Homo sapiens: one gene and its partners. The protein of the gene in region 1 purifies or fractionates together with the protein of each later gene. This does not show direct contact. Each region holds a gene or a part of one and is shown in the gene's direction. Other genes may lie near its edges.

The links.
Region 2: the proteins of DLK2 (region 1) and RABGAP1L purify together in Homo sapiens (affinity purification with mass spectrometry; 2 studies listed by BioGRID and IntAct, with this or other methods). This does not show direct contact.
Region 3: the proteins of DLK2 (region 1) and GALNT2 purify together in Homo sapiens (affinity purification with mass spectrometry; one large-scale study listed by BioGRID and IntAct). This does not show direct contact.
Region 4: the proteins of DLK2 (region 1) and ZDHHC18 purify together in Homo sapiens (affinity purification with mass spectrometry; 2 studies listed by BioGRID and IntAct, with this or other methods). This does not show direct contact.
Region 5: the proteins of DLK2 (region 1) and LRRC8A purify together in Homo sapiens (affinity purification with mass spectrometry; 2 studies listed by BioGRID and IntAct, with this or other methods). This does not show direct contact.
Region 6: the proteins of DLK2 (region 1) and TARBP1 purify together in Homo sapiens (affinity purification with mass spectrometry; 2 studies listed by BioGRID and IntAct, with this or other methods). This does not show direct contact.
Region 7: the proteins of DLK2 (region 1) and EIF2AK3 purify together in Homo sapiens (affinity purification with mass spectrometry; 2 studies listed by BioGRID and IntAct, with this or other methods). This does not show direct contact.

What each region holds. Positions count from the first base shown.
Region 1 is NC_000006.12:43,449,447-43,452,934, reverse strand, and holds the end of DLK2 (protein delta homolog 2 isoform a precursor), read left to right. Parts: intron 1-850; coding exon 851-995; exon of another isoform or gene 996-1,039; intron 1,040-1,660; coding exon 1,661-2,396; 3' UTR 2,397-2,583; downstream 2,584-3,488. Other genes in the region: ABCC10 (ATP-binding cassette sub-family C member 10), read right to left, coding at 2,844-3,006, 3,401-3,488. UniProt on the Homo sapiens protein: Regulates adipogenesis.
Region 2 is NC_000001.11:174,991,792-174,996,082, forward strand, and holds the end of RABGAP1L (rab GTPase-activating protein 1-like), read left to right. Parts: 3' UTR 1-3,517; downstream 3,518-4,291. UniProt on the Homo sapiens protein: GTP-hydrolysis activating protein (GAP) for small GTPase RAB22A, converting active RAB22A-GTP to the inactive form RAB22A-GDP. Plays a role in endocytosis and intracellular protein transport.
Region 3 is NC_000001.11:230,069,706-230,073,996, forward strand, and holds part of GALNT2 (polypeptide N-acetylgalactosaminyltransferase 2 precursor), read left to right. Parts: intron 1-4,291. UniProt on the Homo sapiens protein: Catalyzes the initial reaction in O-linked oligosaccharide biosynthesis, the transfer of an N-acetyl-D-galactosamine residue to a serine or threonine residue on the protein receptor.
Region 4 is NC_000001.11:26,843,366-26,847,656, forward strand, and holds part of ZDHHC18 (palmitoyltransferase ZDHHC18), read left to right. Parts: intron 1-4,291. UniProt on the Homo sapiens protein: Palmitoyltransferase that catalyzes the addition of palmitate onto various protein substrates, such as CGAS, HRAS and LCK. Acts as a negative regulator of the cGAS-STING pathway be mediating palmitoylation and inactivation of CGAS.
Region 5 is NC_000009.12:128,906,133-128,910,423, forward strand, and holds part of LRRC8A (volume-regulated anion channel subunit LRRC8A), read left to right. Parts: intron 1-1,024; 5' UTR 1,025-1,032; coding exon 1,033-3,189; exon of another isoform or gene 3,190-3,808; intron 3,809-3,911; exon of another isoform or gene 3,912-4,291. UniProt on the Homo sapiens protein: Essential component of the volume-regulated anion channel (VRAC, also named VSOAC channel), an anion channel required to maintain a constant cell volume in response to extracellular or intracellular osmotic changes.
Region 6 is NC_000001.11:234,454,585-234,458,875, reverse strand, and holds part of TARBP1 (tRNA (guanosine(18)-2'-O)-methyltransferase TARBP1), read left to right. Parts: intron 1-1,119; coding exon 1,120-1,209; intron 1,210-4,291.
Region 7 is NC_000002.12:88,620,965-88,624,464, reverse strand, and holds part of EIF2AK3 (eukaryotic translation initiation factor 2-alpha kinase 3 isoform 1 precursor), read left to right. Parts: intron 1-3,500. UniProt on the Homo sapiens protein: Metabolic-stress sensing protein kinase that phosphorylates the alpha subunit of eukaryotic translation initiation factor 2 (EIF2S1/eIF-2-alpha) in response to various stress, such as unfolded protein response (UPR).

The sequences.
Region 1 (3,488 bases):
TGAGTGCCTATTTTGTCCTTGTCAAACCCTCAAATACATGGTATTTTATCATTTTTTTAAATCTTAGACTTTTTATATGTTGTCTGAATTGATCCTCAACATAACCCCATGGGGCAGGAAACACAGCTGCTAAAAATTGTACTCATTTTACAGATGAGGAAACTAAGGCCCACAGAAGAGCTATAACCTGCTCAAAGTCAGGTTTTTTTGTTTGTTTTGTTTTGAGATGGAGTCTCACTCTGTCACCCAGGCTGGAGTGCAGTGGTGCGATCTCGGCTCACTGTAACCTCCGCCTCCTGGGTTCAAGTGATTCTCGTGCCTCAGCCTCCCCAGTAGCTGGAATTACAGGCACCCGCCACTTCAGCTAATTTTTGTATTTTTAGTAGAGATAGGGTTTCACCATGTTGGCCAGGCTGGTCTCGAACTCCTGACCTCAAGTGATCCACCCGCCTTGGCCTCCCAAAGTGCTGGAATTATAGGCATGAGCCACTGTACCGGCCTAATGTTTGTATTTTTAGTAGAGATGGGGTTTTGCCATGTTGGCCAGGCTGGTCTTGAACTCCTGACCTCAAGTCATCTGCCCACCTTGGTCTTCCAAAGTGCTGGGATTACAGGCATGAGCCACAGTACCCAGCCCAAGGTCAGTTTGAGACAGACTGAGAGCCAGGGCCAGGAGCCTCCTGACTCCAAATTCAGTGTTGTTGTCTCTCCCTAGCATACCACGCCAGCCTGGGCTGGGTTTGTAGTATAGCCACACCTACAGAACCTGGGGCCTGGAAGGCGTGGACAAGTCTGGTCTGGGGACCAGATGGGAGGGGTTATCCCAGAGCCTTTCCTGTCCCCTCTCCAGATGAACATATCTGTACCACGCAGTCCCCCTGCCAGAATGGAGGCCAGTGCATGTATGACGGGGGCGGTGAGTACCATTGTGTGTGCTTACCAGGCTTCCATGGGCGTGACTGCGAGCGCAAGGCTGGACCCTGTGAACAGGCAGGGTGAGTGCTGGGCCCTCAGGGTGAGTGGAAGGTTAGACCAGAACCTGGTGATGGGATGAGAAAAGAGGCAGGACTGTTGGGAGGGTGGGGGACTGAGAGTCAGACCCACACGGGGACACTCAGATAAAACCCCTGCATGCCAAAGTGTTCCTAGTTCAGGGTTTCTCAACTTTTTTTTTTGTACCTTCTGAGCCATTTCTTCAACAATCTATAGGAGCTAGAGGGGTAACAAACGTGTGACTGTTCTGGTTGGGGAGGGTGGGTGTGGGGAGACTGAAGGGCCTGGGTCTCTCCTCATCCTCTCCTGAACGCTGGCTTGCACCCTTCTGTGTCACAGTAGGGATGAGGAAACAGCCTGCAGGGCTGGACTTGTCCTCATTTCTGCATCAGGCCCAGGAGCCTGTGAGGATAATAATAGCACACTTACCCTGAGCCCTGCCTTCTGGCTGGGCCCTGTGCTAATGGCTTGACATTGATTATTTCACTCAACCCTCACAATTAGGGAAGCTGGGTACTATTTTTATTCTCATTTTTAAAATGAGGTATTTGAGGCTCGGAGTGTGTAGCCCAAGATGACATGGCGGGCAGTGGTCAGGATACTGACCTGGGCTGCCCTACAGGTGTTGGTAAGTTGGTTATCATGTCCTCTCTCACCCCTACCACAGCTCCCCATGCCGCAATGGCGGGCAGTGCCAGGACGACCAGGGCTTTGCTCTCAACTTCACGTGCCGCTGCTTGGTGGGCTTTGTGGGTGCCCGCTGTGAGGTAAATGTGGATGACTGCCTGATGCGGCCTTGTGCTAACGGTGCCACCTGCCTTGACGGCATAAACCGCTTCTCCTGCCTCTGTCCTGAGGGCTTTGCTGGACGCTTCTGCACCATCAACCTGGATGACTGTGCCAGCCGCCCATGCCAGAGAGGGGCCCGCTGTCGGGACCGTGTCCACGACTTCGACTGCCTCTGCCCCAGTGGCTATGGTGGCAAGACCTGTGAGCTTGTCTTACCTGTCCCAGACCCCCCAACCACAGTGGACACCCCTCTAGGGCCCACCTCAGCTGTAGTGGTACCTGCCACGGGGCCAGCCCCCCACAGCGCAGGGGCTGGTCTGCTGCGGATCTCAGTGAAGGAGGTGGTGCGGAGGCAAGAGGCTGGGCTAGGTGAGCCTAGCTTGGTGGCCCTGGTGGTGTTTGGGGCCCTCACTGCTGCCCTGGTTCTGGCTACTGTGTTGCTGACCCTGAGGGCCTGGCGCCGGGGTGTCTGCCCCCCTGGACCCTGTTGCTACCCTGCCCCACACTATGCTCCAGCGTGCCAGGACCAGGAGTGTCAGGTTAGCATGCTGCCAGCAGGGCTCCCCCTGCCACGTGACTTGCCCCCTGAGCCTGGAAAGACCACAGCACTGTGATGGAGGTGGGGGCTTTCTGGCCCCCTTCCTCACCTCTTCCACCCCTCAGACTGGAGTGGTCCGTTCTCACCACCCTTCAGCTTGGGTACACACACAGAGGAGACCTCAGCCTCACACCAGAAATATTATTTTTTTAATACACAGAATGTAAGATGGAATTTTATCAAATAAAACTATGAAAATGCAAGTGGGCTCCTATGCCAGAAAAACCCACCTGGCGTTCCAGATGCAAGAGGGCCAGAGCAGAGGCCTGGTTCTGGGGAAGCCTCAGGATGCTGCCCACCAAGGAGTGATTTCCAAAGAGTAATCCAGGGTGCCCTTTTCCCTTCTGGGGAAGTGTGGAGAGGTAGAGCCCCAGAGGAGAATGTAAACAAGCAGCCAGCACCTCTGTATAGGCCCGGCCTGGATCAGAGAGAGGGGAGAACTCTGCAGGGTGTGGGATTGGGCTCAGGGACCTCCGAGTGAGGCAGGGACTCCCTGCTGGCTGCTCTGCAGCAGCTGCTGGAACAGGGAGTGGGGCTGGTTGCGCAGGGTGGCCGGGGAGTCCAGCTCTACCACTCTCCCCGCTTGTAGCACCAGCACCCGGTCTGAGTTCAGGATCGTGTTGAGCCTGTGAGGGGGAAGATGGTCAGTGTAGGGGATGAGGGACAATGCCCTAAGTAAGAACACTGACCTGCTTTCCCTCCTCTCCCCTCGGGACACCACAGGTCTGTCCCCACAGGCTTTAGCCCCTGGCTTGGTGCTGGGGAAGGGACTGCAGAGTCCCTCAGATAATGTGCTATAAAGGGCCCTAGGCAGTGCTATAAAGGGCCCTCAGATAATGTGCTATAAAGGGCCCTAGGCAGTGCTATAAAGGACCCTTCTCGTCCCTGGAGAAGGAGGAGCTGAGATCTGGGGGGGCAGGATCTCTAAGGCCCTGACCACTGGGGTCCCTGAAAGCAACGGAGGCTCTCGGTGCATGCTACCACAGTCCCTGATTAGGCTGTTACCAGGCGTTTACATACCTATGGGCAATGGTCAGCACTGTCTTGTTGGCAAAGCGTTTGCAGATGGTCTGCTGGAGCAGCTGGTCTGTCTTCTGGTCCACACTTG
Region 2 (4,291 bases), on another chromosome or scaffold:
TTGTAAAATGTAATAGCTAGAAAATGTTATCTTGGCGCTTGTTTTTGTAAATCATTTAGTATAGGCTGTTAGCTTTACTGGTACTTTACGCTTTGATTCCAAGAAGCCTTGTGCAGTTGCCTTATCAAATGGCCAGCTAAATTAAAGATGCTCTTTTGTGTTGTGAATTTCATAGTTCTGTACAGAGCTTGTTTCAATTTACAAAAATAAGTACATTCCACAGAATGCCTAAAGTGTGTAATTTTCTTTAAATAATAGTAGGTGAGGGAGAAACATAATGGCTCTAGGTCAATCCCTTATCTAAAGACCTTGTTCAACTTCATAGTCCCTTTCCTTTTAAAGAGGAGAAGAGAAAAATCCCCCCTGGCCAGGCATGGTGGCTCACATCTGTAATCCCAGCACTTTGGGAGGCTGAGGTGGGTGGATCACCTAAGGTCAGGAGTTTGAGACCAGCCTGGCCAACATGGTGAAACCCTATCTCTACTGCAAAATACAAAAATTAGCCGGGCTTGGTGGCGGGTGCCTGTAATCCCAGCTACTCGGGAGGTTGAGGCAGGAGAATCACTTGAACCCAGGAGGCAGAGGTTGCAGTGGGCCAAGATTACGGCATTACATTCCATCCAGCCTGGGCGACAAGAGCAAAATTCCGTCTCGAAAAATCACCAGGTACATACCTCTCAAGTTTGATAAGTCCATCTTTTGAGTTTTCTTTTAGCTCTTTCAAAAGATTACGAGGGCAATACATATTTTTTTTTTTTTTATTCTCCAGCCCCATATCATACTTGGGTATGCCTGTTGGTACCATAAGCCTAAACTCTCCTTCACTGCAATGCCTTTGAGTCAGTAGCAATAGTAAAGACTAGAAACAAAGAAAATTCAGAATTTGGTATGTGATATGATTGTTCATACAATATGTTATAATAGCAATATTCCAAACAATATGTCCTTCACTGTCTATTGTTGGAAAACTCATGCATCCCAGCATGAAGTAACTCCTAGTTTTAATTTTAGTTATTTTGAGATATATTTGAGAATTGCATCTCTTCTCTTGAATTTCACTTAGAAGAGATTAACCAGCCAAATATCCAGGAAAGTTTCAAAACATTCTAGTGTTTTTCATCCTTTGCTAGGATGCACTCTGTACAAAACATTCCTCTGAAAATCTAATATTTGCAGTATCTAAGAATTGATCATTTCTATTTTCATTAAATTCTGTGGAAAAAATTAAATGAATGAAATTCAACTTCATAATTCAGTTCATCAGCTTTTGTATCTTGAGAATCTAAACACGTCTTTAAATCTGAAAGAAACCAAGCTGGATTTTGCAGTGCATATGTTTGCTAGCTTCCCACATCCTGAACCATGTCAAAATTTGGTTTTATTTAGTTACATATAATTTAATGCAAAGAAATTCTGTTACTTAATGTTCTGTTTATTTATGAGTGCCTATCAGGAACACTAATAGGAATGCCATTCAACCAGTGTCTTCTGCCCCTCTCCCAGCTGTTAAATTAGTACTTCTTCATTGGCTTTCTGAAATGTCCTGAGTAAAGTAGAAAAGCAACCTTTGTATGGATGTGGGGATATTTAATAGTATGTATCTTGTTTCATTTTTTTCCTATGATGTATTAATATTTATTTTTCTCCAACCCCTGCTCCATTTTCTTAAAATATTTTCCAGTTAATAACTAGTTGCTTTATTTCCTAGCTGAAGTGAGAAAACCAACGGAAAACAATACAGATTTGGGCAGAGGAGATAGAGTTACATCTTTAAAGGAGTGAGCCAGTCACCCAGGAGAATCACATGTGTAACTGATGTAGGGGTTTAAGTCTTCATACTTTCACTAAAATCTGTCTACTAACTCTCCCACCAACCTTTGCATCAAACACTTAGGTACCTGCCTGATTAGGGGGGCCCCTTTAAGGGAAAAAACTTTTAAAAAATTAAATGCCTTGGTTTTGTTTTATCTTCTGGGAAAGAACACTTTTACTTGATTAGCAAGATGATTATATTATATAACTTGCCCTTAAAAACACTCCAAAATACTGACTCCTTTTCTCCAATTACAAATGAGTGTGAAGAAATTCTGTTGTATGATTTGAACACTATTAGGTTTGTATGTGTGTTTAATTGGAAGAATTTTATATAGAGTATCTCTGCTGCTTTTGTTTACCTGGGTACCACACAACCAAATACACATTGAGATTTCAAGAAATGATGATGAAAGCCAGAAGGCCAGACCACAGCTCTGCAGCCTGTTTCCTACAACCAGATATAAAACTCTTTCTCGTCGCCATGCTGATAGTCACACTGAACTAGAACTGTCCCAACACATTCTTCCTCTCTCATAATGGCTTCCATTTAATACAGGCAAAGCCCTTTACCTTAGCAAATTCTTTATCTTTCAAAAGTGACCAAAATGAGGACTTCAACCTTGGCTGCACCTCAATAGGAGATGCTGATCTTGAGTTGTAATGAGAAAAGTGGGCATATAGGAGATTTTAGTGACTGCAGTCAGCTGTCTGGCATTCCTTTCTCAGTTTGCATCTAAAAGACTACATATGTCAAGCTTATCTCCACCTGAATTTGCTGCCTGCTATAAAAACATTTCATTAATATATCCCATTCTTCCTACCTCCATCTCTGGTTTGTCATTAGTGGTATTCTGAAAAGCTTAAGAAAAAAGAATCATTGAGTAGAAAGTGAACATTTTAAGTTATTTTCCTTTTTCATTGGCAATTAGTTAACATGTAAAATCTTTTCCATTAAACTGTATAACTTTTAATAACTATATATTATATATGGGATAAAATATATGGACTGAATTGTGAGAATATAAATGCATCGAAAGACTCTGGTGTCATGAAAGCACAAGAATAAGGCTGGAGATGGTCCCAGATCCAAGATGTCCCAAAAGCCTTTTGTATCAGTTTCTCTATTTTTGGTATTTTGCATAATGCATGGATCCTTAGTTCAAATGAGGGACAAAGTTTCTCAGTCAGCCCCACTTCCTTTCTTTCTAACTCCTACCTTTCCCTTGCAGAGGAGGTAGTAGAGATTCTGGAATTGTCTATTTTTATGAATTCCATTATTTTGTCCATGGCATCTCTAATGAAAACAGGTTCTAGAATAAAGGAGTTGATTAGTCTGAACAGTACTAATTAACTACAAAATAAACGTTAGTGATCAGCCTCTTCCTCTATAAACAATGACCAATTAGACGTTTCCGTAATTCCATGTATTATGTATAGTACACTCTATAAATGTAAATGTAATGCTTGTCTAAAAAGTGCAATTTATTGTACATTGTCCCAACAAATGTTTACTTTTATAATCGTTATGAACTTGAATTGGATTAGTATCTTGTTTTTATGTGTGAATGAAGCCTTGTGAAATAAACAAATGCAACTGAGAAGGTAACAAGGTGACTGTTTTTGTGAGCCAGTGATGTTTTCAATGCTTTGTGTTGCCCCTTTGGCCCCATTAAGCAGTAATAAACATTTGTTCTGAAGTCCATGTATGTCTTTTTTATTTTTTTAGTTGACTTTATTCTGACTCATTTGAACCCAATGTTTATGTAACACTTCTTACACCTGACCCCAGACTCCAGTCAACGTAGAAAACACACAGTATATACCCTGCAAAATGATACCCTGTGCAGCACCACCACAAAGTGCTTCATTTTCCTCTCTACTGAGGTTCCTTGATTCCACGTAACAGAAACCCTTGCAAGCTAGCTTAATAATAGTAATTTTAAGAGGCAATTAATTAAAAGGAAATAGGATATCTGTATCATAGGTCCCAAAGGCCAAACACTTGGGCCTGAACTGGCACTAGGACAAGGGGCTGGAATGCCATCAGGACTCTGAAAGCAACTGTTCCCAAAATTGTGCTTCTGCTTGTCCTTCCAGATGACTTACCTGCTTCATTCTTCTCTCTGAAAACAGGCTTTCTCTGCTTCTAAGTACACAGCTACCAAGTTTACATATCCTCTCTTCAAACTACCAGCAGAAGACTACCATCTCAATTGTTCCAATTACAAATTCTGGAAAAAATATGACTGGCTAATCCTGGGTCAGGTAGCTGCTGTTAGTCCTTTAAGGTACAGCAAGGTAGGAGATACTATAAAATTCAAACTAAACTTCAGAGGCACTTATGAAAGTGGAGATAGTGTGCAGAGAATCCCAATCATATCTCATTTGCATTTGCATTTTGTGCTGGGAATCCATGGAACCCAAGTGAAATCTCAAGAGATTTGTCAGCTCCTCTTGGAATTCAGCATGTATTAAA
Region 3 (4,291 bases), on another chromosome or scaffold:
AAAAAAAATGTGGTTTGTTTGGCTTGTAAAGTATGGACATAAAAAAAGATAGCGGGCCATGCACAGAAAGGCAGAATTTAAAAGCTAGCTATAGTTTTTTTAGAGATAAGTGGACCTATATTTTTTCTCTTGCCTCATACTGTTCAAGTCAGGGCTTTTATTCCATATTTAGCCAGTTTCTGCACATCCTGACGTTTTTCATAGGGTACTAGGCTGCAGTATTGGGCTTTAGGGATCGTCTGAGGGGAGTCCAACTAGGATTTCTGCTGCTTCAGCAGCCCAGCCCAGGCTTGTCATTGTGTGCCCTGCCTGTTAAGTAACTCATCACAGAACTGTTATTCTCCACTTGGCAAAACCCAGAGAGCCAGCTCACCTCAGATTGCAGGTTTAGTAAACTAAGCAGGAGGGAGTGCTGAAGACCAATCTCAGGCACTGCCGCACAACTCGGGACTCAACACCCAGGCTCAGGACATGTATGTTAAAGCAGTTTATTCAAAATATTGTTTAAAATTATGTTTCATTTACATTTGTGTCCATACCCTTTCCCCCCATATTTTGCTCTTTCCCCCTAAATTGATGATTTGCACTTCAAGCGTGCCTTTCCTTTGAGCTTCTTAAATGCTTTAAAATTTTAACCATGTTAAGTCTCCCCTGGGCTTTGGTACGTTGGCAGTGGATGGAGCCGCAGAAGAGAGGAAGGGATTTCTCTGGAAATGAAGCTGCCTGTGGGTGAAGTGTGGCTGTTTAGGGTGGAAAGGGAAGGGTTTTCTCTCTGCTGTAAGAGTGTGTGGAGCCTGAGACCCCTTGCCTGTGTGCCTGCATGCTGGGAGGTAAGGGACGGTGTTAGTTGAGGGACATGATCCGGAGCCCTGGGAGCCTGTCCACTTTGCACAGTAGCATCACCCTTATTCCCTGAGCTGGCACGAGTCCTGTGGCCCTTGCCCGAGAGTCCAAGGGTGGGGGACTTTGGGTGGGATCTTCTAGGAATCATGCGGGGAGGCGGGCAGGTTATTTCTTGGAACAGTGAAGGACCTTGCCGGGCTAGACCATGGTACACATGGAGGGGAACGTTAGGGTGTAAAGTTGGAGAAATTCAGAACTAAATTGTAACGGGCTTCAAATGCCAAGCTGAACCATTTGGGAACTAGTAATGTTTTTGAGCTAGTAGTAGACATTAAAGGGAAATGGCACAAATCCACTTATTGGCATTGAGTGAGACCTAGCTGTTTACCTCTTTGTGCTTAGTGACCTTCACTGATGCATTGAACCTCTCTGACCCTCAGTTTCCTCATCTTTGCAGTGGGAGTAATCATTCTTACCTCATGGCCTTGTTCGGAGAGTTAAATACTGTTAGTGGGTGCTGAATAACTGCTATCTCTAAAAGAGGAAAATGAAAAAATAAAAGCCTAAATATCCCCTTGAAAGTGTAGTGAACCAGGAATCTTAAGTTCACGGTATTCCTGATACAATTCTTGATTTCTGGAAAATAGTCGTCTTTCTTTTTTTTATCCGTTACCCCCACCTCTGAGATTGATCTGACTGGTTCATTTGGGGTTTGGGCTATGAATCTTAAATGCTGTTAGAGACGGACTTTTTGGGAAGTTGTCCAGACACCATGCCAGCTCTCTTGTACCCAATTGTGGTGTCAGAATGGGGATCCCAGTAGTGGGCAGCCATCGGGAATGTGGGTGGAGGGTGCAGCTTGCCTTGGCGGTTAGGCAGTTGTAGTGTCCAACAGTGGACAGACGTGTCCCTGAACGAGGGGTTCCTGTGGTGGGATCCCAGGTTCTGAGCTCCACTGCTCTCCCTCTGTAGCCCTGCCCCTCTTGTTAGAAGGGCAGGTCGCTGTGATCCCTGGAAGCATGCATGACTTGAGGTGGAGCATGGGGCCCTCACGTGGTTTAATGGGTGCCAAAAATCTGTGAGCATCTTGGTGGATGCGGAGGGGAACACCCATACCACTCCTTGCCACCTATCATCAGTTTGGAGTTTAAAGAAAGTCCACTTCAAATGAGAGTTTGAAGTTGACACAGGGAGGACAGTAGCAGGGAAAACCACTGTATAGCCAGATAATCCGACAGTGGCACTGTAACATAAACTTCTCTCTTTAAAGAAAATAAAGTTTCCCAATTCTGGAGTGAAGCTGTGGCTGCCTCTGGGTCAGCAAACATAATGGAAACAGATTGTGTGACTGCTGAACAGTGCAAAAGTAACGAGCTCTTCCCTAGACCCTTGAGCAAAAATGAAAAAGCAACTGCTTTACCCAGCACTGAGTGGGGTCAGCTTGCCCAGGCTCTGTTGGACCTTGGGGTGGGGGACACCTGGGAGGCTGGTGAAGGTTTTATGAGTCTTCAGACCCGCTGTCAGTTTCCCCACCCTAGCTCCTGTTTGGATGAATGATGGGTGAGTGGTTGGTCTCCTGTTTGGAACAGAGGAAGAGGTGGTCAGAAAAATGATGGGAGAGGGGGTGGGGGAGATTGGGTTGGGGAAGACATAATTTCTTCTTGCTACTGCTCATGTTTCTTAGGGCTTTGGGGAGAGGGAAGTCAGTTTGGGAAGATACTGATTTTAGTGTCAAAGCAGGCAAGGCCACTGTCCTGCCTAACTTCTAGCAAGTCCAGAGGCAGTGGGCTTAGTGAAAGCAGGTGTGGTGGGGCGGGGGTGGCGGGGGGTGCGGTGAGGCTGCCTGGGACAGAGACACAGGTGTAAGCAGGAGTCGACTGTGAGGCTCTGGCTGAGATCCCAGGAAGGGAAGCTAGGTATTCCTGGGAAAAGCCTGTGAAGTCTCCTGGAGTGCCCAGCAGAATTCACGTGATGAGAAAACACACAAACCTGGCCAAGTCTATGCTCCCTGTTGGTTTTTGTGCTTTTGTCCTTGTGAAGCCTCTTCTGGAAGCTCTGCATGGGTGATGCTGAGCCGTACAAGTCAGTGGATATCCAGATGGAAACACACTGGCTTAGCCATGCCACTCACATGTAACAGTGGGGCACTTCCATGCTGGTTGTTAAATATGCTCTGCCTTGAGACCCCCTGAGTGCCCTCCGGTTCCTAGCTGCCCTGGTCTTTCCTTGGGATCTCTTTCCCATGTTCAGCAATCAAAGGGTTGAATCCTGACACTTGAGGGGCCTCTTGGACCCACTTCTGTGCCTGTGCCATAGTGAACATGCTGATTGTCACCCCTGCAAATGTGCCACTTGGATAGAAGGAGGCCTAGCCCCACTTCCATGATGGGAACAATCCCTTTTCCCTCTGAGTAAGTCTTGATTCACTGTTACTGTTGAGAGTTCTGGTTCCACCATTGTAATCTTGTGGCCTTGCCTCTAGACTGCCTTATGGGTGAGGTGTTTTTAAGGAGGAGGGATGTCTTGGTACTTCCATATGCAAACCCCCCTGAATGGGTCTGGGATAGGCTGGGCCTGGCGGGGAACTCTCCTCTATGGAGAATTACATTGAATTCATTGATGTGTGCTCACCAGTGATCACTCCTGTCCTTAGAGTGGAACTTGACCTTGTTCTCTTAACAGTGTGAAGATTCCTTTACCTTGGCCCTGTGCTTGATCTTCATGATGAACCCAGTATGGAGTTGGCAGGAAAGCTGTCTTCAGATTACCTGCCCAGTCCAGAAAGCCTCTCCCACCTTTCTCTATTGTAAACCATGGAAATAAAAGGGGCTCAAGACACTAATCCATCTTCCCTGATGGGCCCCCACCTTTCTAGGGTTCCCTGCTCTAAGCAGGTGGCACTGTGCTCCTGCCTGGCTCTTGCCTCCTGCAGCACAGGGTGAAACACTGGCATTTTTGCACTTAGTCATGTCTACTAGTATGGGCCCCAGAAGCATGGGGTGTTTTATATGGATTAGGTTTCTTAGCATGCTGAAATGTAGATGACAGTGATTCATCAGGGCCGGATTTGGAGATAAACAAAAACTGTCACATAGAGTCTCACTCATAGGCTTACATTTAAAAAGCTTTCCCAGGCTATGGGAGTTATATGAGCCCCTTGTCTCACTGAGGCGGGCTGTCACAAAGAAGCAGTTAAGGGCTGGCTGCCTGGGGGCTGGGAAATGGGCCGATCCCTCATGGCTCAGCCTGCCCTTGCTGGCTGCTTGCCCTGGTCAACTGTCCCTTCTGCCGCAGCCTTCCAGGAGCTCCCCATGGAACAGAGAGTCTCTCCTAGGCCACTCTGCTGACCACCTCCTCCTGCCCATGGCTGGCAGTTTTCTGTCCCTAACTCTTAGGGAAGAGGAATGGCCAGGAGGGTTGGGGGTAGAGTTACTGAATTTCCAGAGTT
Region 4 (4,291 bases), on another chromosome or scaffold:
CCTGACCTAAGGTGATCCACCCGTCTCAGCCTCCCAAAGTGCTGGGATTACAGGCGTGAGCCACCGTGCCCGGCCTCCTTTTTTCTCTATTTCTTATTTTTTATGGAAGTATAATGGGCTTATCAAAAGTATACAAGTTGTGGCCGTGTACGGTGGTTCATGCCTGTAATACCAGCACTTTGGGAGGCTGAGGTGGGTGGATGACTTCAGATCAGGAGTTCGAGACCAGCCTGGCCAACATGGTGAAACCCCATCTCTACAAAAAAATACAAAAATTATCTGGGCGTAGTGGCACACACCTGTAATCCCAACTCCTCAGGAGGCTGAGGCAGGAGAATTGCTTGAACCTGGGAGGCGGAGGTTGCAGTGAGCCGACATCATGCCACTGCACTCCAGCCTGGGCAACAGAGCAATATTCCGTCTCAAAAAAAAAAGGTATAGAAATTTTAAGTGTTCTGTCTGATGAATGTTCACAAACTGAATGTACACATGTAATCAGCACTGAGATCAAGAAACAGTATATGACTGGCATCCCAGGAGCCCCCTCATGCCCCCTTCCAATCACTGTCACTCTCCAAGGGTTACACAATCCTAATTTCTAACACCATGGATTACTTTTGCCTATTTTTGAACATTTTGTACTGTATGTCTGGCTTCCTCACTTTACACAATTTGTTTTGTTTTGTTTTTTTGTGATGGAGTCTCGCTCTGTCACCCAGACTGGAGTGCAATGGCGTGATTTCAGCTCACTGCAACCTCCATCTCCTGGGTTCAAGCAATTCTCCTGCCTCAGCCTCCCGAGTAGCTGGGATTACAGGTGCACACCACCATGCCCAGCTAATTTTTGTATTTTTGTAGAGATGGGGTTTCACCATGTTGGCCGGGCTGGTCTTGAACTCCTGACCTCAAGTGATCTGCCCGCCTTGGCCTCCCAAAGTTCTGGGATTATAGGTGTAAGCCACTGCACCCGGCCAGACAATGTTTATGAGATTCATTAATATTATTGTGTGTAGTTGACGATGGTTCGATTCTCATTGCTATATAGAATTCCACTGTGTGAATATACTACTTTTTAAAAACATCCATTCTACTACTGGGGTGTTTGGGTAGTTCTGGAGTTTGTCTATTATGAGAATTATTGCTGTGAACATCCTTGTGCATGTCTTTCAGAGCACATTATCTCATGCACATTGCTGTTGGGTAGATGCCTGGGAGCAGGTTTTCTGGGCGTGCATATGTTCAGCTTGGGTAGCTGTTGCCAAACAGTTGTCCAAAGCGGTCATATGAGATTTCTAGTTGCTCTACTTTTTTACCAACACTTGGTATGTTTTATTTTTTTTCATTTTAGCCATTCTAGTGCATGTGTCATAGTAGCATATTGTGGTCTTAATTTGCATTTCCTCGCTGACTAATGAATATAAGCACTTTTTCACGTGTTTATTGGCTGTTTGGACAGCCTCTTTTATGAGATGCCTACTTAAGTCTTTTGTCCGTATTTGTATTCAGTTGTCTGACTTTCTTACTGACTTACAGGATTTCTTTACATGGTTTTTTTTTTTGGTTTTTTTTTTTTGAGATGGAGTCTTGCTCTGTCACCCAGGCTAGAATGCAGTGGCGCAATCTCGGCTCACTGCAATCTCCGCCTCCTGAGTTCAAGTGATTCTCCTGCCTCACCCTCCCAAGTAGCTGGGATTACTTACAGGCATGCGCCACCATGCCCGGCTAATTTTTGTATTTTTAGTATAGACGAGGTTTCACCAGTTTGGCCAGGCTGGTCTCGAACTCTTGACCTGAGGTCATCCACCTGCCTCGGCCTCCCAAAGTGCTGGAATTACAGGCTTAAGCCAAGGCGCCCAGCCCTTTACATATTCTTCATACAAGTCCTTTGTCTTTGTTTACAAGATGTAAACATCTTGTAATTATCCATTCCTGCTCTAAAGGTTACTTCTTCATTCTTTTTTTTTTTTTTTTTTTTTTTTTTTTTTTTGAGACAGTCTCTCTCTGTCACCCAGGCTGGAGTGCAGTGGCATGATTTCAGCTCACTGTAACCCCCACCTCCCTGGTTCAAGTGATTTTCATGCCTCAGCCTCTTGAGTAGCTGGGATTACAGGCGCCCACCACCACACCCAGCTAATTTTTGTATTTTTAGTAAAGATGGGATTTCACCATGTTGGCCAGGCTGGTATCGAACTCCCAACCTCAGGTGATCTGCCTGCCTTAGCCTCCCAAATTGCTGGGATTACAGGCTTGAGCCACCGCGCCCGGCCTCATTCTTTTTTTTAATCATCCAGCCCCAAAAAACTCTTCATTCTCTTAATGATTACCTTTAAATGAAAAAAAAATTTAATTTTGATATAATGCAGTTTATCAAATTGCTCTTTTATGATTAGCCCCTTTGTGTCTTTTGTTTGTTTGAGACAGGGTCTTGTTCTGTTGGAAAGGCTGGAGTACAGTGGCACAATCATGGCTCACTGCAGCCCCAAACTCCTGAGCTCAGGCAATCCTCCTGCCTCAGCCTCCTGAGAAGCTGGGACCACAGGCATGAGCAACCATGCCCAGCCACCTCCATATGAGTTTTGGAATGAGTTTGTCAATTTTCACAAAAACAACCTACTGGGATTTTTGACTAGGATTATGTTGAATCTGTGGATTAGGGAGAATAAATCCTTTCATAATATTCAGTCTTCCAATCCATGAATATGCTATATCTCTGCCTTTTTTTCTCTTAAATTTCTTTTGTGTGTGTGTATATATATATGTGTGTGTATATATATGTGTGTATATATATACATGTATATATGTCTATATATACACATATATCTATATACATACATATATACACGTATATACATATATATGTGTATATAGAGAGAGAGATATATAGATATATATCTCTATAGAGATATATGTGTGTGTGTGTGTGTGTATATATATATATATATATATTTTTTTTTTTTTTTTTTTTTTTTTTTTTTTTTTGAGGCAGAGTCTCGCTCTGTCTCCCAGGCTGGAGTGCAGTGGCCCAATCTCGGCTCACTGCAAGCTCTGCCTCCCGGGTTGACGCCATTCTCCTGCCTCAGCCTCCCGAGTAGCTGGGACTACAGGCGCCCGCCACCATGCCCGGCTGATTTTTTTGTATTTTTAGTAGAGACGGGGTTTCACTGTGTTAATCAGGATGGTCTCCTGACCTCATGATCCGCCTGCCTCGGCCTCCCAAAGTGCTGGGATTACAGGCGTGAGCCACCATGCCCAGCCTTAAATTTCTTATTATGAAAATTTCAAACACACAGAAAAAGCAGGAAGGATTATAGTACAACTAATTCCTGTACATTCACCATCTAGATTGAATAGTAGTTGATAGTGCATCTTATTTGCATATATATGTTTGTTCTTCTCAAACTATTTCATAGTAAATTATAGACATCATAGATACTTTACCTATAAATATTTCAACATATGTCTTAAAAATCTAAGGATAATCTCCTACATAATCACAATTCCATTATCATACCTAAGAAAATTCATTGTTCCTAATTTTTTTTTTTTTCGAGACAGAGTCTCCCACCGTCGCCCAGGCTGGAGTGCAGTGGCATGATCTCGGCTCACTGCAAGCTCCGCCTCCCGGGTTCAAGCGATTCTCCTGCCTCAGCCTCCCGAGTAGCTGGGACTACAGGCACACGCCACCACAACCGGTTAATTTTTTGTATTTTTAGTAGAGACGGGGTTTCACCGTGTTGGTCAGGATGGTCTCGATCTCCTGACCTCATGATCCGCCCGCCTCGGCCCCCCAAAGTGCTGGGGTTACAGATGTGAGCCACCACACCTGGCCAATTGTTCCCTAATTTTTGTTTGTTTTTAGAGACAGGGTCTTGCTCTGTCACCCTGGCTAGAGTGCAATGGAGTGATCCTGGCTCATGCTCACTGCAGCCTGGAACTCCTGGGCTCAAATGATCCTCCCACCTCAGCCTCCTTAGTAGCTGGGACTATAGTCACACGCCGTCATACCCGGCTAATTTTTGTCATTTTTTATAGAGATAGGGTCTTCCTATTTGCCCAGGCTCATCTTGAACTCCTGGGCTCAAGCAGTCCTCCCATCTTGGCCTCCCAAGGTGCTGGGACTACAGGCATGAGCCACTGCATTCGGCCTGTTTCGTAGTTTTTAATCTGTAGTCAGATTTCCACAGTTGCCCTCCAAATGTCTTTTGTTGCTGTGTTTTGTTTTGTTTTTCAAAATAAGATCCATGATGTATTGCATTTGTTTATGTCTCTTAAATCGCTTTTAATTTAGAAT
Region 5 (4,291 bases), on another chromosome or scaffold:
ATGTGGAATTTTGTTGTTGAAGCAGGGTCTCTGTCACCCAGGCTGGAGTACAGCGACGGGGTCATAGCTCACTGCAGCTTCAACCTCCTGGACTCAAGCGATCCTCCCACTTCATCCTCCCAAAATGCTGGGATTACAGGCTAGGATTACAGGCGTGAGCCACCATGCCAGCCCCCATGTGGAATTTTTTTTTTTTTTTTTTTTTTTGAGTTGGAGTTTCACTCTTGTCGCCCAGGCTGGAGTGCAATGGCACAATCTCAGCTCACTGCAACCTCCACCTCCCGGGTTCAAGTGATTCTCCTGTCTCAGCCTCCCGAATAGCTGGGATTACAGGCACCCGCCACTACGCCAGGCTAATTTTTGTATTTTTAGTAGAGACCGAGTTTCACCATGTTGGCCAGGCTGGTCTTGAACTTCTGACTTCAGGTGATCCACCCACCTCGGCCTCCCAAAGTGCTGGGATTACAGACGTGAACCACGTGGAATTTTTAAACCTTGCTCTTTGTTTTATGGAAGTGAGTTCATGTTGTGCCCCCTCTGCATGTTGCTTTCTTTCCTCATATTTTGCGGGAATCCCTCCAGCCCTTTGCTGCAGCTTTACAGCAGCTGGTTCCCAGTGAACTGGGAGTTTTAAATGTGTCCCTCTGGTCAATCTGTTCATTAAATAGGTGGACTTTAGAAAGGAGTTCCCGATTGCTCTTACTGGAATGCAAGGGATGGAGCAGAGAACCCTGAGGCTGCACTGGGGATCTGTCTAATCTCACTGTGCTCAGTCTTCCTGTGTATTAAATGGGGAGCCTGCCTGCCTCCCCCAGGGTGGTTTCCCAGCCAAGTGGCCACATGCTTTCTGCAGAAGGGCTGATAAGTGGGCTGCCCCGTGGAGTAGGCAGGCTTTGGCTCCCAGCTAGATTTGAGGTGGAATTTTGGACAATGGAAGAATTTTCATTGTCTTCTTCCCCTGACCCCTGGTCCTAGGAAAGCCAGGCCACCCTGTGCTAACCCCCCTCCTATGGCTCCCTTTTAGGTTGAACCATGATTCCGGTGACAGAGCTCCGCTACTTTGCGGACACGCAGCCAGCATACCGGATCCTGAAGCCGTGGTGGGATGTGTTCACAGACTACATCTCTATCGTCATGCTGATGATTGCCGTCTTCGGGGGGACGCTGCAGGTCACCCAAGACAAGATGATCTGCCTGCCTTGTAAGTGGGTCACCAAGGACTCCTGCAATGATTCGTTCCGGGGCTGGGCAGCCCCTGGCCCGGAGCCCACCTACCCCAACTCCACCATTCTGCCGACCCCTGACACGGGCCCCACAGGCATCAAGTATGACCTGGACCGGCACCAGTACAACTACGTGGACGCTGTGTGCTATGAGAACCGACTGCACTGGTTTGCCAAGTACTTCCCCTACCTGGTGCTTCTGCACACGCTCATCTTCCTGGCCTGCAGCAACTTCTGGTTCAAATTCCCGCGCACCAGCTCGAAGCTGGAGCACTTTGTGTCTATCCTGCTGAAGTGCTTCGACTCGCCCTGGACCACGAGGGCCCTGTCGGAGACAGTGGTGGAGGAGAGCGACCCCAAGCCGGCCTTCAGCAAGATGAATGGGTCCATGGACAAAAAGTCATCGACCGTCAGTGAGGACGTGGAGGCCACCGTGCCCATGCTGCAGCGGACCAAGTCACGGATCGAGCAGGGTATCGTGGACCGCTCAGAGACGGGCGTGCTGGACAAGAAGGAGGGGGAGCAAGCCAAGGCGCTGTTTGAGAAGGTGAAGAAGTTCCGGACCCATGTGGAGGAGGGGGACATTGTGTACCGCCTCTACATGCGGCAGACCATCATCAAGGTGATCAAGTTCATCCTCATCATCTGCTACACCGTCTACTACGTGCACAACATCAAGTTCGACGTGGACTGCACCGTGGACATTGAGAGCCTGACGGGCTACCGCACCTACCGCTGTGCCCACCCCCTGGCCACACTCTTCAAGATCCTGGCGTCCTTCTACATCAGCCTAGTCATCTTCTACGGCCTCATCTGCATGTATACACTGTGGTGGATGCTACGGCGCTCCCTCAAGAAGTACTCGTTTGAGTCGATCCGTGAGGAGAGCAGCTACAGCGACATCCCCGACGTCAAGAACGACTTCGCCTTCATGCTGCACCTCATTGACCAATACGACCCGCTCTACTCCAAGCGCTTCGCCGTCTTCCTGTCGGAGGTGAGTGAGAACAAGCTGCGGCAGCTGAACCTCAACAACGAGTGGACGCTGGACAAGCTCCGGCAGCGGCTCACCAAGAACGCGCAGGACAAGCTGGAGCTGCACCTGTTCATGCTCAGTGGCATCCCTGACACTGTGTTTGACCTGGTGGAGCTGGAGGTCCTCAAGCTGGAGCTGATCCCCGACGTGACCATCCCGCCCAGCATTGCCCAGCTCACGGGCCTCAAGGAGCTGTGGCTCTACCACACAGCGGCCAAGATTGAAGCGCCCGCGCTGGCCTTCCTGCGTGAGAACCTGCGGGCGCTGCACATCAAGTTCACCGACATCAAGGAGATCCCGCTGTGGATCTATAGCCTGAAGACACTGGAGGAGCTGCACCTGACGGGCAACCTGAGCGCGGAGAACAACCGCTACATCGTCATCGACGGGCTGCGGGAGCTCAAACGCCTCAAGGTGCTGCGGCTCAAGAGCAACCTAAGCAAGCTGCCACAGGTGGTCACAGATGTGGGCGTGCACCTGCAGAAGCTGTCCATCAACAATGAGGGCACCAAGCTCATCGTCCTCAACAGCCTCAAGAAGATGGCGAACCTGACTGAGCTGGAGCTGATCCGCTGTGACCTGGAGCGCATCCCCCACTCCATCTTCAGCCTCCACAACCTGCAGGAGATTGACCTCAAGGACAACAACCTCAAGACCATCGAGGAGATCATCAGCTTCCAGCACCTGCACCGCCTCACCTGCCTTAAGCTGTGGTACAACCACATCGCCTACATCCCCATCCAGATCGGCAACCTCACCAACCTGGAGCGCCTCTACCTGAACCGCAACAAGATCGAGAAGATCCCCACCCAGCTCTTCTACTGCCGCAAGCTGCGCTACCTGGACCTCAGCCACAACAACCTGACCTTCCTCCCTGCCGACATCGGCCTCCTGCAGAACCTCCAGAACCTAGCCATCACGGCCAACCGGGTGAGTGGCCCGGCCACAGCTCTGCGTGTGGGCTGGCGGGTGGCCTGGCCAGGGCTTGTGGTGGGGCACTCGGCAGGCTCAGTGTCCTGGGACCGTCGATGCCCCTGAGTGTGGAGTCCTCACCTGGGGTTTACAGAACCATCCAGGATAGAAGCTCTGTTCAAGAGACAGACTCCTTGGGCCCCATCCCAGGCCTGCTGAATCCGAATCTCTGGGCCCCGGGCCTGTCTTTGCTCCAAAATGTTGCAGTTCTCCTGCCTGGAGAGACTGCATGGCCAGGCAAGGTCTGTCCCCCAAGGTGACCTTGAGCCGGGTTCCTCTTCAGCAGGGATGTGCTTGGGCAGGAGGTCCAAACCCGGGGGTTCTCTCGCAAAGCCGGGTGGTGGGAGTCAAGACTTAGCCTGGAGTTTGTGTCTTCCTCAGCTTGTTCCCAGTCGGACTTGGAGGCAAGGAGCCAATCCGGGTCCACCCAGGACAGAAACTGTGTGGGTGGCCAGTGCTGGCTGAGGGGAAGCCTTGGATGGTCTCTGCAGCTCCCACACACCTTTCTCCACTGCATTTGGTGGTGTCAGAGGCAGAGTTGGGCCTAGATGGGGCTAGTTTGTTTCTGCCTGCCCTTCTGAAAAGGAAATTGTGCAAATCATTGTCACTGGGAGTTTGGGAGGCCACACCTTCGACATACTTTCAAGACTGTTGGTGGTCTGTGGGTGCCAGTCTCTTACCTGGCTGGGGAAGCCCCCATCCAAGGGCCCCTTGGTGGAGGCAGGCAGTGTGGATGGAGGGCTGGGTACTCCTGTGGCTCTGTGGTCTGGCCTCCGAAATGGAAACAAAGCCACTGCCATTGTGGGGAACGTCCCTCTTCCACCCGTCCTGGGGACCTGCAGGTTTTCCTGGGCCTCACATCCAGGTGGAGATTCCTGTAGTGAGACATGTGGTGGAGGAAGCCTGAGGCCAGGCGCTGGGAGACAAGGGAGAGCCCAGCCAGCCACCCTTCTGCCCCCGACACAGCAGCAGCTGTCGTGCCGGGCCCCTGTGAACTTCACTAGGGATGCCACCAGGTTCAGGAGGCTGAAGAAGAGACTCGGAGTTGACCAGGCCCAGT
Region 6 (4,291 bases), on another chromosome or scaffold:
CCCGAGGCACTGAGTCTCCATTGAGCTTCCCTGGTAGACAGACTTTCACTGTGTTGTCACAGCTTGTTGCTGGGGGAGCTAAGTGTGTCCTGGGTGGCCCACTGGGAGAGGACTCTTGGAGCGTATGCCTTGTTCCCTCTCTACATTTCCCCTCATCTTCCCCTGTATCGACATTCAAGGAATATATATGGTGTGTATCCTGTGCTTTTTACAAAGCCTCAGTAAATATTGCTTACTACAGGGGTCAGCAAACTCTTTCTGTGCAGTGCCAGGTAGCAAACTTTTTTAAAGCTTTGCCGCTGGCTTTATGATCTGTGTTGCAACTTCTGAACTAAATAAACAGGCGTTGGCTATATTCCAAAAAAACTATTTACAAAACAGGCTGTGAATAGTTTTTGCCAATGCCTGGCCTAGATAGAGCCAAGGTATCTTATTTCAAGATGTACAACCTTAAGGGAATGAAAGACCTAGGTGGTTTTCTGAGTCAGGGGCTCATTTTTATGGCATTGAAAATAATCACTTTTTTTTTTTGAGACAGAGTTTTGCTCTTGTCTCCCAGACTAGAGTGCAATGGCACGATCTTGGCTCACTGCAACCTCCACCTCCCAGGTTCAAGTGATTCTCCTGCCTCAGCCTCCCAAGTAGCTGGGATTACAGGCATCTGCCACCACAACTGGCTAATTTTTGTATTTTTAGTAGAGATGGGGTTTTGCCATATTAGCCAGGCTGGTCTCGAACTCCTGACCTCAGGTGATCCACCCACCTCGGGCTCCCAATGTGCTGGGATTACAGGCGTGAGCCACCGCGCCTGTCCTCACATTTTGATTGAAAGTAATTTCTTCTTATAGAATGGTGTTTTTTTTTTTTTTAAGATTGTGACTGTCTTTAAGATAGTAACCTCAATTTTAAGTTAACATGGTATCTTTATGTTAAAAGTTGAATAATATTTTCTTTTTATTTGCTTTCTTTTGATTTAGCTAATGATATTTGCTTTCTTTTGATTTAGCTAATGATAACCTACTTTAAGTAGTAGAATTGATTGCCTTCACAGTGGTTTTAGTTTATTCAATTAAACATTTTAATACGAGTAATTTTTAAAACCTTTCCTGCCCTGCCCAGGAGAAAGTGTCACTTTCTGATGTCTCAACTTTTCTCATGTCTCTGAGACAAGAGGAATCCTTAGGACGAGGAACTTCATTGTGGACAGAGGTGAGATTAAAGATAATTTAATAAAGTCTTTGAAAACTATAAAAAATGGTTTTCTTAATGAATTTCTTAGTAGCCATTTATATAAAATATAATGATTGCTTTGTTATCTGTCAGCAGAGACTTTGAAATATTGTATATTTGCTTTGAGTGGACTTAACTAATTCTGCTAAGATGCTTATGGAGAGGTGGGAGAGAGGAAAATGTTTGCAGTACAGATAGACCTATTTAGAAGAAAAGATATTGCTAGTGGGCAGATCTCAACTCTGGATGAGATGCATTAGGAATAATGGCGATGTTAGACTCAAACACAGTAAGTGACACAAACTCCTCTTTCTCTTTTTTCTGTCATTGAATGGCCCCTTCCTCCACCCAGTTGTCCAGTCCTTATGTTTTGGTAATTCTGAGTTTGTCCTGACTTTCTGCATCCAATTCATCATGAAACCCTCCTGTCTCATAAACATCTTTCCTCTTCTCCATGCCGCTCTGTGGCTCTAGCTCAGACCCTCCTCATGTGAAGCTTCTTCCCTTGTGATGATGTCTTGTTGATGTCACGTCCCTGGCCTCCAGACCTCTTACTGTGCCACCCTTTTCCTCAGGACTCTTCAGGGCCAGCCTCCTCCCTCTTTTTGTAAACCACGGGGTTTAGTTTATACAACTGACTTCAGTGCTTATTTGTTATTTATGTGGCTGAGTTCTGATCTTTGTCCCCTCTGGGTTATATAGTTTTTGAGAAATGAAGAAGGGGCAAATTGTGGCCTTTAAAAAATAGAATTTTGTTTTATTTTCTTGATCACAATGCATCTAATTTTGTGGAATTTGAAAAATATAGAACCATATAAAGAAAATAAAAATAATCTGTAATGCCTACCGTCAAACTAAATTCATATTTTTTGGTTTAGTTTTTAGTTCTTTTTCCCTATGAATATACGTATTCTCTTACTTGCCTTCTCATTATAGATAAGTATATGTGTATTTAAAATAATACATATGATCTCTCTAAATATAGATTAAACTGTTTTAAATTTTATTTTTTTGTATTCACATATATATGAGCATTTTAGCATGTTGCTAAGTAATTTTTCAAGATGTAGTAAAAATGCAGTTGATTGTATCATTTAAAATTTATTGTATTAGTTCCTTTTCTTGGACTTTGTTTCAAAGTTTTTGCTTTTATAAATAACACTGGGCTGGGCACAGTGGCACTTTGGGAGGCTGAGGCGGGCAGATCACTTGAGGCCAGGAGTTCGAGACCAGCCTGGCCAGCATGGCGAAACCCCGTCTCTACTAAAAGTACAAAAATTATCGGGGCATGGTGGTGTGTGCCTGTAGTCTCAGCTACTTGGGAGGCTGAGACAGGAGAATTGCTTGAATCCGGGAGGCGGAGGTTGCAGTGAGCTGAGATCGTGCCACTGCACTCCAGCGTGCACGACAGAGTGAGACCCTGTCTCAAAAAGTAAATAACATTGGGAGGAACTTATTTCTATATGTTTTTATTTATACCTGTTTTTTAGGATAAATTCATAAAATTGAATTTGCTGTATTTCAATAATTTTAAGGTTCCTGATACAGATTGAGAGAGGTTTCAAAGTATGACAGTGGACATCCACTTTATCTACAGTGATACAATACCAAATGTATCAGCATGTTAAATTCTTTGCCACTTTGGTAGATAAAACATAGCATTTGGTGACTTTATTTGCATTACTCTGATCACTGTTTTTTAAAACATTTTTTCATGTCTTTGTAGTATTTCTTTTGTGAATTGTCTATTATTGTCCTTTCCCCATTTTGTTTTGGGATTTTAGTGGTTTTTTTTTCTTTTTTACTTGATTTGTAAGTGCTCTTTTTATATTGAGGGTATTGACAAGTTGTTATACCTACTGCAAATAATTTTTTTTTAGTTCCTTTTTAAAAAATTTAGCTTTGCTTGCTGAATGGGTAATGAATTTACGTGATTTGAAGATTAAAACTATTGGTCAGAAGTGTCTTATTTCTGTTTTGCTCTTCTATCTTGCCTTGATCCTTATCGTACTCCACCCCATCCCCAAACAAAGGTGTTTTTGATATAGACTCTGCTTACTACCTTGCAAGTTTTCATTAAAATGTATATTCATAGTGATTTCTTTATCTCAGTAGGCAAAGACCCTTCTTAGTCTTTTTTTGTAAAGTAAAGCTTGCATAGTATTTTGTAAAGTAAAGCTTGCATAGTATTCCATCTGGTGGTTGTACCATTGTTTATTCAATTTCCCCCATTGCCGAACTGTTGAGTTGTCCAGTCTTGTGGCTTTTACAGACAATGCCACAATAAATGAATAGTCTGCAGGTACATCTGCAGAATGGAGTCCTAGAATTGGGATTGCTGGTCAGAGGTTGGGTGCCTGTGTAATCTTTCTGGGGATTGCCCAGTTTCCCTCCATAGTTTCCTATGGTTGCTGTAATAAATTACCACCAGATTGGTGGCTTAAAATAACATACATTTATTCCCTTACAGTTCTGGAGGCCAGAAGTCTGGAATCCGTTTCACTCGTCTGCAATTAAGATTCTGGCTGGCTTGTGCTTCCTTGTAGGGGCGAGTCCACTTCCTCATCTTCTGGAGCTGTATTGCTTGCATTTCTCGGCTCATGGTCCTTTCTCCATCTTCAAAACCAGCAGCCTGGCATTTCGAGATCTCTGCTTCGTCTTCATATCACATTCTTCTCTTCTGTTTCTGTGGCCAAATCTGCCTCTGCCTTCCTTTTATGAGGACACTTAGGATTACATTGGGCCCCCTCAAATAATCCAGCATAATGTCCCCATCTGAGAATACTTAAATCTGCAAAGCTCCTTTTGCTGCATAAGGTAACATTCACAGGTTCCGGGATTAGGACCTCGGTATCTTTGGGCCTACCATAGGGTTGCAGGAGTTTCACAGGGTATGATAGTGCCTGTTGTGAAGCAGGATTTTTTACCAGTCTGAAGGATGGGAAAGGGCATTTCAGTATAATTTTAATTAATCATTCTCTTATAATTTGTAAGTTCAGGCATCTTTTCAGTTTCATTTTGATTTTTGATTTTGTTTAGTTTTTTCCTGGTAGCTTTTTAC
Region 7 (3,500 bases), on another chromosome or scaffold:
TTTAAATGAAGCAGCAGAGACAATACTCAAATTGCAAGAGGTTAAAGATTCAGGCCCTTCTGCCCCAATCCCTCCTTTCCTCACTGATGAGGTAATTTTTAGGAGAAGGAACCTCCGAACTTACTTATGTACTGAAAAGAGGGAGCCTGTGTAGATAGAATGAAAATGAAAGGGGCTGGGCGCATTGGCTCAGCCTGTTATCCCAGCACTTTGGGAGGCCAAGGCGGGTGGATCACCTGAGGTCAGGAGTTTGAGACCGGCCTGGCCAACATGATGAAACCCCATCTCTACTAAAAATACAAAAAATTAGCCAGGCATGGTGGCGGGTGCCTGTAATCCGAGCTACTCGGGAGGCTGAGGCAGGAGAATCACTTGAACCTGGGAGGCGGAGGTTGCAGTGAGCTGAGATCGTGACACTGCACTCCAGCCTGGGCAACAAGAGCGAAACTCCGTCTCAAAAAAAAAAAGAAAAGGAAAATGAAAGGAACAGGTGATGAGGTGAAGGTAGTTAGAGAAGATCCACTTAGCAAACAGGAGGATCATTTCTTTCTCATAAATTGCAGTGAAAACAGGAATTTTGGCTTGAAGAGCATACATGATCACCAAACAGAATTGCCTAGGAAGAGATAGAGCCCAGTTTTGGGGTCTGCCTTGTAGTGTGGACTTAAGATAGTGTGGAATGTTTGAGAAACCTTGAATAAGTTGATAGTCAACAGGAGATAAATACGCAGTTTATAAAAGTTTTTTCTAAATGCTCTTAAAAAAAGATAAAAACCCAGAGAATATTAATTAGTTCAGTAATAATAGACCGGTAATTCTGTTTGTTTCAAGGAGTATTAGGGGAACAGATTTGAATTAACCAAGCGTTTACTATGAACAGCTGTGAAGAACTGCAGTACTGGCAAAACTTTTAAAAAGGAGGAGGTGTGGAATTATCTTTATTTTTGCATGTTGTCTTTTGATACTCAAGAAGCAATCCGAGATTCACCAGTTCATTGATACTTTTCTCTTGATGGAATTTTCAAGTTTCATTCTAAGTGCTTACTCTGCATATCAAGCATGTGAATGAGTGAATAAGCTATTTATTTTCTTTAAAAGTTAGCTAAAATAAACTTGTTTTTCTGGTACCAATCTCGTTGTCCATGTTCTTCTGCTAAACATTACATTAGTTGATATTTAAGTGGGATGGTCATTGCAGAAAGTTGGGAAGAAAGTCTCATCACCTCACTGTTAGATTTTACATATGTTTATGTAATTTTGTGAATTACCAGTCTTCTGACTTCAACACAAATAGCAAATTGCAAAGTGTTACTTGGGGTTCTTGGGATGGGTTGGGAAGACATTCTGACAATCTCAGAAGTTCTAAAGAACTAGTTTTATCTTAACTATCACTAATTTGCAAAGTACATGTTCCTTTTTCCTCTGGCTCTAATTCCTCTCTAACAAAAGTATTTCTAAATTTGACATTAATCTCTGGTGCTTCTTCAATTTGTGCATCTGCAAACTGATTTTTTTATTAAATGAGATAACATGAAAATATTTGCAAATATAAGATGATATAATTTCTCTTTTTTTCCTCTGTCGTTTTACAAAGTGATCTGATGTGAAACAAAGGTACAGAAATCTAGTCTTCCTCAGACTTTCAGATTTATAATCATTTTTTTGTTTGTTTTTTTAACTACTAGGACCCTTGAATAGTAGCATATCAGAATACCATGTTGAAAGGAAGCTCAGTCATATAGTCCTATTCCTATTCACTCACCCAACTCCAGACTTTTAAAGTTAACTAACAGTCACCTTTAAGGAAGAATTTACACAGAACTTTCAAAGCAAGTAATAAGCCAAAATAAATATACTTCAGGCAAGTAATGAACTATCCTTTGTGTCTGCAATTGTCTTTAGCTTAATTGATGCCAGGACTGTGCTTAGACTATGTGGACAGGGATGGGAGATTGCTTTTTATCTGATCTCAGGTCCCTGCATTCATAGGCATCTTCCAGATTGCAGAGAGGACCTGTCTTTATCAGTTGCTGTGAGCTGTAGCTTCAGCGTGTCTCTTTACTCCCTAAACATTGCCTGATAACTCCATTTGCTTTTCTCCTTTTTTGTAAGAGGGGAACTTCTTATACATTTTTATTACAAATTGTTTTAAAATACAAAGGAGAAAACTTGTAAGTTGCAGAGCTAAATGTGAGGGGAGGAGATAAATTTGTGTGTTTAATTCCATTCTATTTGTAAATGACCATTTTGATTAAAAGTCTTTCATAGGGCCGGGCGTGGTGGCTCACGCCTGTAATCACAGCACTTTGGGAGGCCAAGGCAGGCGGATCACCTGAGGTCAGGAGTTCAAGACCAGCCTGGCCAACATTGTGAAACCCTGTCTCTACTAAAAATACAAAAATTAGCCAGGCATGGTGGCACACGTCTGTAGTCCCAGCTACTCAGGAGGCTGAGGCAGGATAATCAATTGAACCCGGGATGCAGAGTTTGCTGTGAACCAAGATCATGCCACTGCACTCCAGCCTGGGTGACAGAGTGAGACTCTGCCTCAAAAAAAAAAAAAAAAAATTATAGAATAAAGTAGAAAAGGTACTTTCAAAAATGTTTTAATGTAACAGGAAAAGGATATCTGTTACGCTTATGTTAAACCTGTACCACTGAAAACTTAGATTGTATGTCTTTAAGGTCTAGCTGATATGCCAAAGTTATAAAGTATAGTTGGTAATTTTTGATATATTTGTTATGATTTGGGGCATGGCTAGTCTTGTCATATGTTTAAGTAAAGGAGGTTTGACTTGAAGATTTACTTAGTAGGTGAGGACCAGGAAGTATAGTCTAATCAGTACTACTTTGTTTCTAAACAAGAACATATGCCTCCTTTAGTGAGGGCACAAGTTTGGGCAAAGGATTCTCAGCTACGCCAAAAAAACAGGTTCAACCAAATCACATTTATAGTTTTGTGAAATAACGCCCTCTCCCCAACCCCCAGAAAGGATATTTGAAATTTTAAAATAAGCAGTTGTTAATGTAGAAACTATTTAATCCATACAATGTTCTCCTATCACCTGCTTGTCTTCTTTCACATCGGAAACTTCCACAGGAAATAAAAGTTCCTTTAAAATGATTTTATGAAGAAATTTAGCATACACTTATCAGAATTTGATAAACTTAACTGTAAATAGGCAGGTGTTCTGGGTAACTTAAGTCAGCACAGTTTTTCTTTTTTTATTGCGTATTCATTGTGGCATAAAGTCATTTCTCCTGGATTGAGGACATAATCAGAGCAATTACAGGATGAACGACATCTATGAGATTTCTGAGAGGAATAAAAAGCTGCACGTTTTAGTAATATAGTAGTTGCCACTTATGCAAACTTACAGTTAACAGAATAATGAGTTAAAAACCTGAATTTCTGCTCCTGTTCAAAATTTTGTATTTGGTGCATAACCTTAGGTAAATCACATCTTTTCCCATCTTCTCAGCCTTTTTGGTGGTGATTG